Regions from separate parts of the Homo sapiens genome. Here all the other regions are linked to region 3. The links come from fine-mapping of genetic effects on gene expression. A gene starts in region 3. Each other region holds a variant in brackets. All regions are shown on one strand. Distances are between the middles of the regions. Region 1 has its middle 88 kb from the start of SESTD1. Region 2 overlaps SESTD1 (SEC14 and spectrin domain containing 1). Region 3 holds the start of SESTD1 (SEC14 and spectrin domain containing 1).

Evidence for each region. PIP is the estimated chance that this variant, and not a neighbour inherited with it, causes the effect.
Region 1: its variant is fine-mapped to the expression of SESTD1 in whole blood (TOPMed, PIP above 0.99).
Region 2: its variant is fine-mapped to the expression of SESTD1 in whole blood (INTERVAL, PIP 0.95).

The regions. Positions count from the first base shown.
Region 1 is chr2:179,351,890-179,354,657 of GRCh38, reverse strand. No RefSeq gene overlaps it. Among named protein-coding and RNA genes, the nearest start is that of SESTD1, 88 kb to the right of the region's middle. The variant G/T (reference allele first, on the strand shown) is at 1,650.
Region 2 is chr2:179,121,052-179,123,819 of GRCh38, reverse strand. SESTD1 (SEC14 and spectrin domain containing 1) reads left to right here. Exons shown (of 18, transcript NM_178123.5): 12 at 1-105; 13 at 1,891-2,050. Among named protein-coding and RNA genes, the nearest start is that of CCDC141, 72 kb to the right of the region's middle. The variant C/AC (reference allele first, on the strand shown) is at 1,557.
Region 3 is chr2:179,263,519-179,266,286 of GRCh38, reverse strand. SESTD1 (SEC14 and spectrin domain containing 1) reads left to right here and starts at 1,455. Exons shown (of 18, transcript NM_178123.5): 1 at 1,455-1,788. RefSeq lists silencers at 1,354-1,973, 1,984-2,053, 2,162-2,325 and an enhancer at 2,654-2,723.

The sequences.
Region 1 (2,768 bases), 88 kb before region 3:
TCACACTCCTGGAGGAAGTATACATAGCACTATGCATCTCCCAAAATATCATTTATATTTGAATTTACAGGACCTTTTCATTCATGTTTAGTCATAGTACATTTCACTTTCTAAGAATTCACAACATTGGAAATAAAACAAAGAGGCCACACATGGAATTTCTGACTCTACAAGAACTAAGAATTTATCCACATGATTCCTCCTCTGGTATTCTGCCATTTTTTCTTCTCTTTCTCTGCCTTCCCTGCTCTCCATTTTCTCCCCACCCCAAGGTGGATCAAGGCGAGTCTTTAAAATGAGAGGAAGCGTGTGCTTTGGAGGAGCTGCTGCCAAGAGTACAGCTATCGCTCTGTGTCCTTTTTTCTCAGGTAGAAATTTAATTAGATATTTTTATTCTAAAGTTCTTGCTTCCAAACTCTAATGAGTTATAGTTCATATGTAGAGGATGAGAATAAATGCAGTTAAGAAACACAAAGGAGATAATCAAGCTGAACAGGTGGTTCTCAACAAAAACTTTAAGATTTGTCTTCTACTGAGAATAATCAAGAGATAACCATAAATTAAAATGACTTTAATAAAGACATAAAATGTCTTGTTCCTGAATAAGAAGACTGCATATTTTCAGTTGTCAATTTTCCTAAATTAATCTGTAAATTCAATGGCATCCTAATGGAATTTTAATAAACTTGAACAAATGTTTCTGAAGTTTATCTGAGAGAATATTCAAGTGAGAATAGCCAAGAACAACAACAATTTTAATAAGAGTTATAGAGAGAAGGATTAGATTTAATATATGTTTAAAGGTGATACCAAGCCACAATAAATAAAATGGCATGTTCTCAGCTCAGTAAAAGAGATGTATTCCAATGGAACAGCAAAAAACAAACAGTAATATATAGTATCTTGTTTCATTTTATTTATTTTTAGAGAAAGGGTCTCACTGTGTTGCCTAGGCTGGAGTACAGTGGTGCTATCATAGCTCACTGTAACCTTGAACTTCTGGGCTTAAGCAGTCCTCCTGCTTCAGCCTCCTGAGTAGCTAGAACTATAGGCACACACCATCATACCTAGCTAACTTTTTATTTTTTGTACAGACCGGGTCTCATTATGTTGACCAGGCTAGTCTTGAACACCTGGCCTCAAACTATCCTTCCCCCTCGACTTCCCAAAGTGCTGGGATTACAAGTGTGAGCCACTGTTCCCAGCCCTATCCTACAGATATCTGTACCTTTATGTAAAGCATTTCTGTAGGATAGGGCCATTTATATATGGCTATTTATATATATATAAGCTATTTATATATATAAAATACAGATATATAAATATATATAATACAGATACATATAAATAAATAAAAAAATATATATGGCTTTTATTTTATTAAAAATGACTCAAATGCTACTATGGGTAACAATGTAGCAGTTCCTTAAAAAATTAAACAGAATCACCATATGATCCAATAATTTCACTTCTGAATATAAACCCCAAAAACTTGAAAGCATGAATTGAAACAGATATTTGTATACCTACATTCATAGCAGCATCATTCACAATAGTCAAAAGCAACCCAAGTTCCATCAACCAATAAATAAACAAAATGTGGTATATACATATAGTGAAATATTATCAGCCTTAAAAAGGAAGGAAAT[G/T]ATGATACATGCTTACAACATCAGTGGACCTTGAAGAAATCATATGCTAAGTGAAATAAGGCAGTCACAAAAGGAAAAACACTGTATTATTCCACTTATATGAGGTACCTAGAGGAGTAGAGTTCTTTGAGACAGAAAATAGAAGAGTGGTTGCAAGGGGCTGCAATGAAGTGGGAATGCAGAGTTAGTCTTTAAGGGTACAAAGTTTCAGCTGGGGAAGATGAAAAAGTCCTGAAGATGAATGGTAGTGATTGTTGCACACAATGTGAATGTACGTAATACCTCAAAACTCTATACTTTAAAATTGTTAAAATCATAAATTTTATGTTATATATATATTTAACCACAACTTAAAAAGTGTTGTATGGTAAATGTTGGGATACTTACTAGATTTACATCATCTATTAAAGTATTTTGAAATAAATACTTGTGGCAGTATTTGTTTAAACAACCAAAATGTTCATCAACAAACTATAGTATAACCATGCAACTATGGAACAGCATGCAGCTATTAAAAAGCATAAAGTTGACATATATGGAATGATATACAAAATGTATTGTCAAGTGAAAGAGGAAATGGAAAATTGTATTCGACCTACTTTACATATTTCTTTTGTAAAAACAATATTACATCAAGTTGCCCAAGGGTAAGGCCGTCTAACCCACATGATAGAAAAAGCATCATCTTTGTTATTTTCTTCTTGGGATCACAGAGCCAGTCTCACTCTTTTATATAGTAGTTGGGTTTCCCTATAACAGATAGAAGTTCTCCACTGTCCATTATACTAGGAAGATATTCATCCTGGGACAAAAAATGAGGACTTAGTGAGTAGGAATTAGTCTGAGGTGAGGAGAAATTTTTTCTTTTTTCTCTGGGTTTGAGACTCGGTGACTGTGAGGAGCCAGGTGTCCTGACCTGGGCCTGACAACACAGAGAAAAGCTGATGACAAGTCAGGAAGGTGGCTAGGCCCATAGGTGACCTACAGCAAAATGGACTTGAACTGCAGAAGCAATGTATCTTCCGTGTTGGACTCTCCTTCCATTAGTCTTTGTTCTTCTGTAAGGGGAAATTATGGTAGAGCCCACATCCATATTTGTGGGCAGCGGTCACTGCCAGA
Region 2 (2,768 bases), 140 kb after region 3:
AGTTGGATGGCTTATTAGGGATGTTGTGCGTAGATGTAGCACCAGCTGATGGAGCATCGATTCAGCAAACTTTAAAACTGCTTGAAGAGAAGCTGAAAAGTGTTGGTAAGCAGATTTTAAAAATGCTGAAACATAAGGTTTTTTTTTTTTTAAATATCATTACCATGGTTAGACAATTAAGTCAACTTACACTGAACTAATTAGTATTATTTTCAGGAAACAGAAAAATAGTATAAAAAGATTTTATTCCCTTGAGGGGTTATAATTTATGCTGAAAATTTTATTTTTCATCGTTAGTTAGTCACTCCTCCCTTCACTGGGCCTTTACCCTTGCCTGTTTACCCAGCTATATCTACAGGTGCTGTGTCTTGCATATACTATGAACAATTATTTGTAGTGCATGCATGAACTGTAATTAGCTGTGAAATGTTCTGTGGTAAATCCTGTATGCCCAAAATTGTGTTTTATGCAATGATTTTTGTTGTTGCTTTATCCTAACCTTGTGAAAAAATAGTTGGTTTGGTTTTTTGGTTCTTGTCTCACCAAACTGGGAATATTGTCAGATTACCCATTCTCCAAGGAGTGGGGTACATTTACATTAAGGGGTCCAGTTACATTAAGCTGATGTAGGCTTGATGTCATTTGACATCAAGGCCTTTAGAATTTTTCTACAGCAGGAAGCACAGTGAACTTTCCTAAAAGGTCAGGATGTGACAATGGGAAGGTGGGGAGTCGTATCAAGGGGGGACAAAAGGGGAAATGGCAATGGAAGAGAGGAAACAGGAACTTAAGGCAGAGAACTAGTAAAAAGTGGTTGCACATGACTAAACCAAATTATTGAAAACTGCCTTAGGGAATTGGTTTGAAAAATCACACTTGTACTGACATTTTACTTGCTTACAGCCTTTGTTATTTTATTTTTTTGAGATGGAGTCTTGCTGTGTTGCCCAGGCTGGAGTGCAGTGGTGCCATCTTGGCTCACTGCAACCTCTGCCTCCCCGATTCAAGTGATTCTCCTGCCTCAGCTTCCTAAGTAGCTGGGATTACAGGCACCTGCCACCACGCCCGGCTAATTTTTGTATTGGTAGTTATAGTAGACATGGGGTTTTGCCATGTTGGCCAGGCTGGTCTCGAGCTCCTGACCTCTGGTGATCTGCCCACCTCAGCCTCCCAAAGTGCTGGGATTACAGGCATGAGCCAGCGCACCTGGCCAGCCTCTGTTATTTTAACAGATGGTATGCATAATACATATTTAGTGTTTAATATGACAAATGAATTTTCTTTTAAAATATTAGTTTTCTTGAGCCACAGTCTTTGTTTAAAAAAAAAAAGTTCCTTTACACATGTAATTTGGAGAATTGTAAATATACCCTAATTGTTGCTTCCTATGGTATAGAAGCTAGACTGTATCTTTAGTCACAATGTTCAACATCCTTTGACATTGATGATACATTGCTGGAGTGTCTTAAAATTTTGCAAGGCTTATGCGCTTTTTTAAACAACATGTTTGCCTTGTTCTCCTATAAGTTGGACAGCATAAAAGCAGGAAGAAAAAA[C/AC]AGAAAATTGTTTTCTATTAGAAATAGGAATTTTCATATTTTTCTTCTGCTTTCATTTTTTAAAAGTAATTATTGTCTATGGAAACCCATGTTTTCAAAATTCCCTTTAGGGAGAATTTGGCATGAGAGAGAGCTCCAATTCGAGTTACATTTAAAGGGTTTTATTGCTTGAAATGTTCATAGGATGGAGTCTTGGGATTCCATCCCAAGGTGGTTTACTGTACAAAGCTCCTATACTTGGGATCCAGGTACAATATCTGATGAGACGATTTGTTTGAGGGAGGGAAAGCGCCTTAGTTGTGTAAGAGATTAAATCTAGTAACTTTTGTTTTAGATGTGGGATTGCAAGGTTTGCGTGAAAAAGGTCAAGGTCTCCTGGATCAGATCTCCAATCAGGCATCCTGGGCCTATGGAAAGGATGTAACCATTGAAAATAAAGAAAATGTGGACCACATACAAGGAGTGATGGAAGATATGCAGCTTAGAAAACAAAGGCAAAGTTTGACCGTTAATTACTTTTTACTAAAATAATAACAATATTAGTTAAAATGAAGTTATATAACATTTTATATACAGACAAAACGTTCTTAACTGTTATATAGAAGACATGTAGTAGGTTTTTGGTGAATGTGATAATTACTGTATATAATTTTACTAACATAGTAATAATTTATTCAATTATTAGGTACCATTTTCCTTTTTATTGGGTTGTAAAAATTTCAATTATACTCAACTATTTCAAATTCCATATCCCCAGTGTAGTCTATGACTCTTCTGCTTTAAAAAAAACTTACTGAAGAATAATTTTGCTTTTTAAATTTCATTTAGTTTAGAGTTGCCATTAAACTTGTCATCTACATTGATCTGTTTCTTCATCTAAACTTACAGAATGTCACACATTCATTGTTCTCATATTTGCTGTAGGAGGATTAAACAGTGGACTAGTGATGTTTAGTTTCATTTTCTATAAAACTAGGAATTCAAAAGATTCTTTGAAAACTCAGTTTGCAATAGCAACTACAAAGTATTGCAAAGTAAAGGATTAAAATTATGCAATATACACAATCTAGCATGGTTATATGAAATTTTGCACACTTAAAAATTTTATGATCATCAACAAAACTTCACAGAAAGCTTCCTTCTGCATCACAGAGAAAACAGTCATGAGGCAGAAATTTCTTCCCTCATATCTGCAAACTTACTTTTATTCTG
Region 3 (2,768 bases):
AGCAAACAGTTAAAGAGAACCTTTTTTGTGCTGAGCACTGTGCTATGTTCTGGGGAGCAAAAAAAATGAACTAGACAAAATCCCTGTCCTTTTAAGGAACACACAGTCTAGGAAGAAAAGGCCACCAAGCAAAGCAACAGGAAAAAAGCAAGTATTAAAGATTATCATAGGGAATACTGTAGATAGACGATTTTATGAAAGCAGAGAGAAAAAGAGTATTTAATTCATTGTAAATGTGTGGGGTAAGGATACAGATGTGGTGAAAGGAGATGATGTCAGGGAAGATTCCAAGGAGGAAGGGATGCATTATCTTCATTATCTTGAAGGACAATAGGAGTTCAACTGGTTAAATGAGGGATGGATTTCAGGTGGGGGAAAACTACAAGGGCACAAAGACAAAGTCTGTTGAATTTGTGTGATACGTAGATATATTAGGAGTTGAAGCTGGAGCCAAGGAGGTCAATAGATCAGATTTTAAATGGCTTTGTAAACCATGGTAATGAGTTTGAACCTGATTCAACCAGGTGGAGAGACTTTGAATGATTTTAAAGAGGGACGTTTCATGCTTAGCTCTGTCTTTTTGGAGCATTCTCTCTGGCAGTTATATGGAACTGAAGCAGCAGTGAAGTTAAAGGCTTGACCTAGAGTGGCAAAGAGGTGGAAGTCATGGAGACAGACTGATATTCACAGAATTAAGAGGAAGAATTAATCCACGGGATTTTAAGTCAGAAAACTTTAGTGGAGAGAAATTTGGTTGCTTAGTTGTTGGAATAGGAAGATTTTATCAACGGAATTAGGTGATACTGAAGTGAGTGGCTGAGTGAATAATATGGAAGTCTTGAAATTGGGACCACACAGCTGCTCTGATCTGGTGTGAATTTGCTGATGACTCTTTTGAACTGAATTCAGGAAATGACATACAAATGATTTGCGCAATAAAATGAAAACAAGGACTCTTAAGTCAGTATACTTGGAGAAAAATAACTAGGTTGGTAAAAATGGGGAAGTAGCCATTATCAGGGAGCCCCATTGTGGATTAATTTTGGACTGTCCAGTGGAAAGATCCTCAAAGCAAAACAAATGCCCTGAATCCAGCCCTTCCTCACCGCAACCCTTTCCCTTTCATCTGCCTTCATCCTTCAGCCACACCACCGCTTGGCAGTGAGTACTTGGGAGCAGCTCTTGGAGACTTTGTACTCGAACCTTCGAACTCCAGCATGAGGCCAGAGGAAATAAATGACCTGCCAGGGTGTCAAGTAACGGACCCTCTCTTAAGCCCAGACTTCTGACTCCAGATCTAGGTACCCTTCCACTCTCCAAGACTGCCTCCCGCCTGGGGAGCCTGGGCCTCGGCTAGGGGTGGGGACGGCAGGGTCCGTCCGGAGCGCCAGAGTCCCACTCGCGCCCAGCCCTCAGCCCCAGGCCCGGTTGGACGCCCCGCCCCGCCCCGCCTCCTTCCTCCTTCCCGCGCCGGGCGGGTTGCTGTACCGCCGTCACCCGGGCGCGCGCGGGGTCGCGCGGACGCGGCTCGGGCCGCGGGTGCCGAGAGGTCGCCGGGCCACCCGCACCCCCGCTCCCCGCCTGACGCACGGAGGGGCCGGGACGCGATTTGCCGCGAGTGACTGGAGCCGCAGCCGTCGCCGCTGCTGCCGCCGCCGCCCGGGCCCGCTCCGCCCCCAGCCCGCCTTCCTCCCGCCGCGCCCTCCGCCTCCGCCCGCACCTCGCTAGCGTTCCCCTGTCTTCCCCAACGCCCCGGAGCCGCCGGCCGCTAGCGTCAGCGCCAGCCAGGTGAGTGTGGCCGCCGCTCGGCCCGGGCGGGAGAAGCGCGCAGGCCCCGCGGCCGGGTGGCCGGCTTGGGCCGGTGCAGTCGGCGGCGGCGGCGGTAGCGGGCCCGGCTTTCTTCCCCTGCGCGGGCCGCGGGGCGGAGGGGCTACGCAGTGAAGGAGGGGCGCCCCCGCCCCGCCACCGCCTCTGCTCCCAACGCCCCGACCGCCCCCACCGCCTTGCCGCCACAGACAAAGCGCCGGAGGTGGGAGCCCTGCGGGCCGCCTTTGCCTCCGCGCCGTCTGCCGGGTGCGGCCGCGGCCCGCAGAGACCGGGCCGCGCGCTTTTCCGTTCCTGAGCGCCCTTGTTCATTTCTGGGTGAAAGGGACCCGAATTGTGCAACAGGTTTGGGCGTTAGTCCTTATTTTCCAGCGGGTCTCTTTTGCCAGCGTGCAGGAACCAGATGTGGCTCCCTGCTCTCGGGCGAGTCCCGCGTCCAGCGCCCGCGACTGGCTCCTTTGTGTGACCGGTGACCGGCCCTGTCGGGTGGGTGGAGGACACGGGCTCGAGGCCCCAGGGCTGCGCCGAGGCTCCTGGACGCCTCCTCAGGTCGCGGGGCTTGGCTTCCACGGGCCTGCCAGAGGTTAACATCCCTCCAGCGTTTGGGAGAGTCACAAAGGGGAGGAGAGAGAGGGTTGGCCAGGGTCTGTGGTTGTGTTTATTTTTCTATTTTAGGTAGACTCATATTAGAAAAGAGCCGCAGTCTGACCAGCTCTTGAGGGTACGGGTGGGATTTCACCCTGGGATGCACGGTTTGGACTTGGCTGTTGCTCTGACAGCCCCCGTGGTTTTCTTGGTGCTTTGACATCTTTCTCTTACACACAGACATCGCGGGAGAAGTTGGGAGTGCTGCCGAGGGAGTAACTAGATAGCAGCTGTTTGACAGGTCGTCTCTTACTTCACGTTTTGCTTGTGTCAAGCATGCCCACTATGTATCCCAGCAT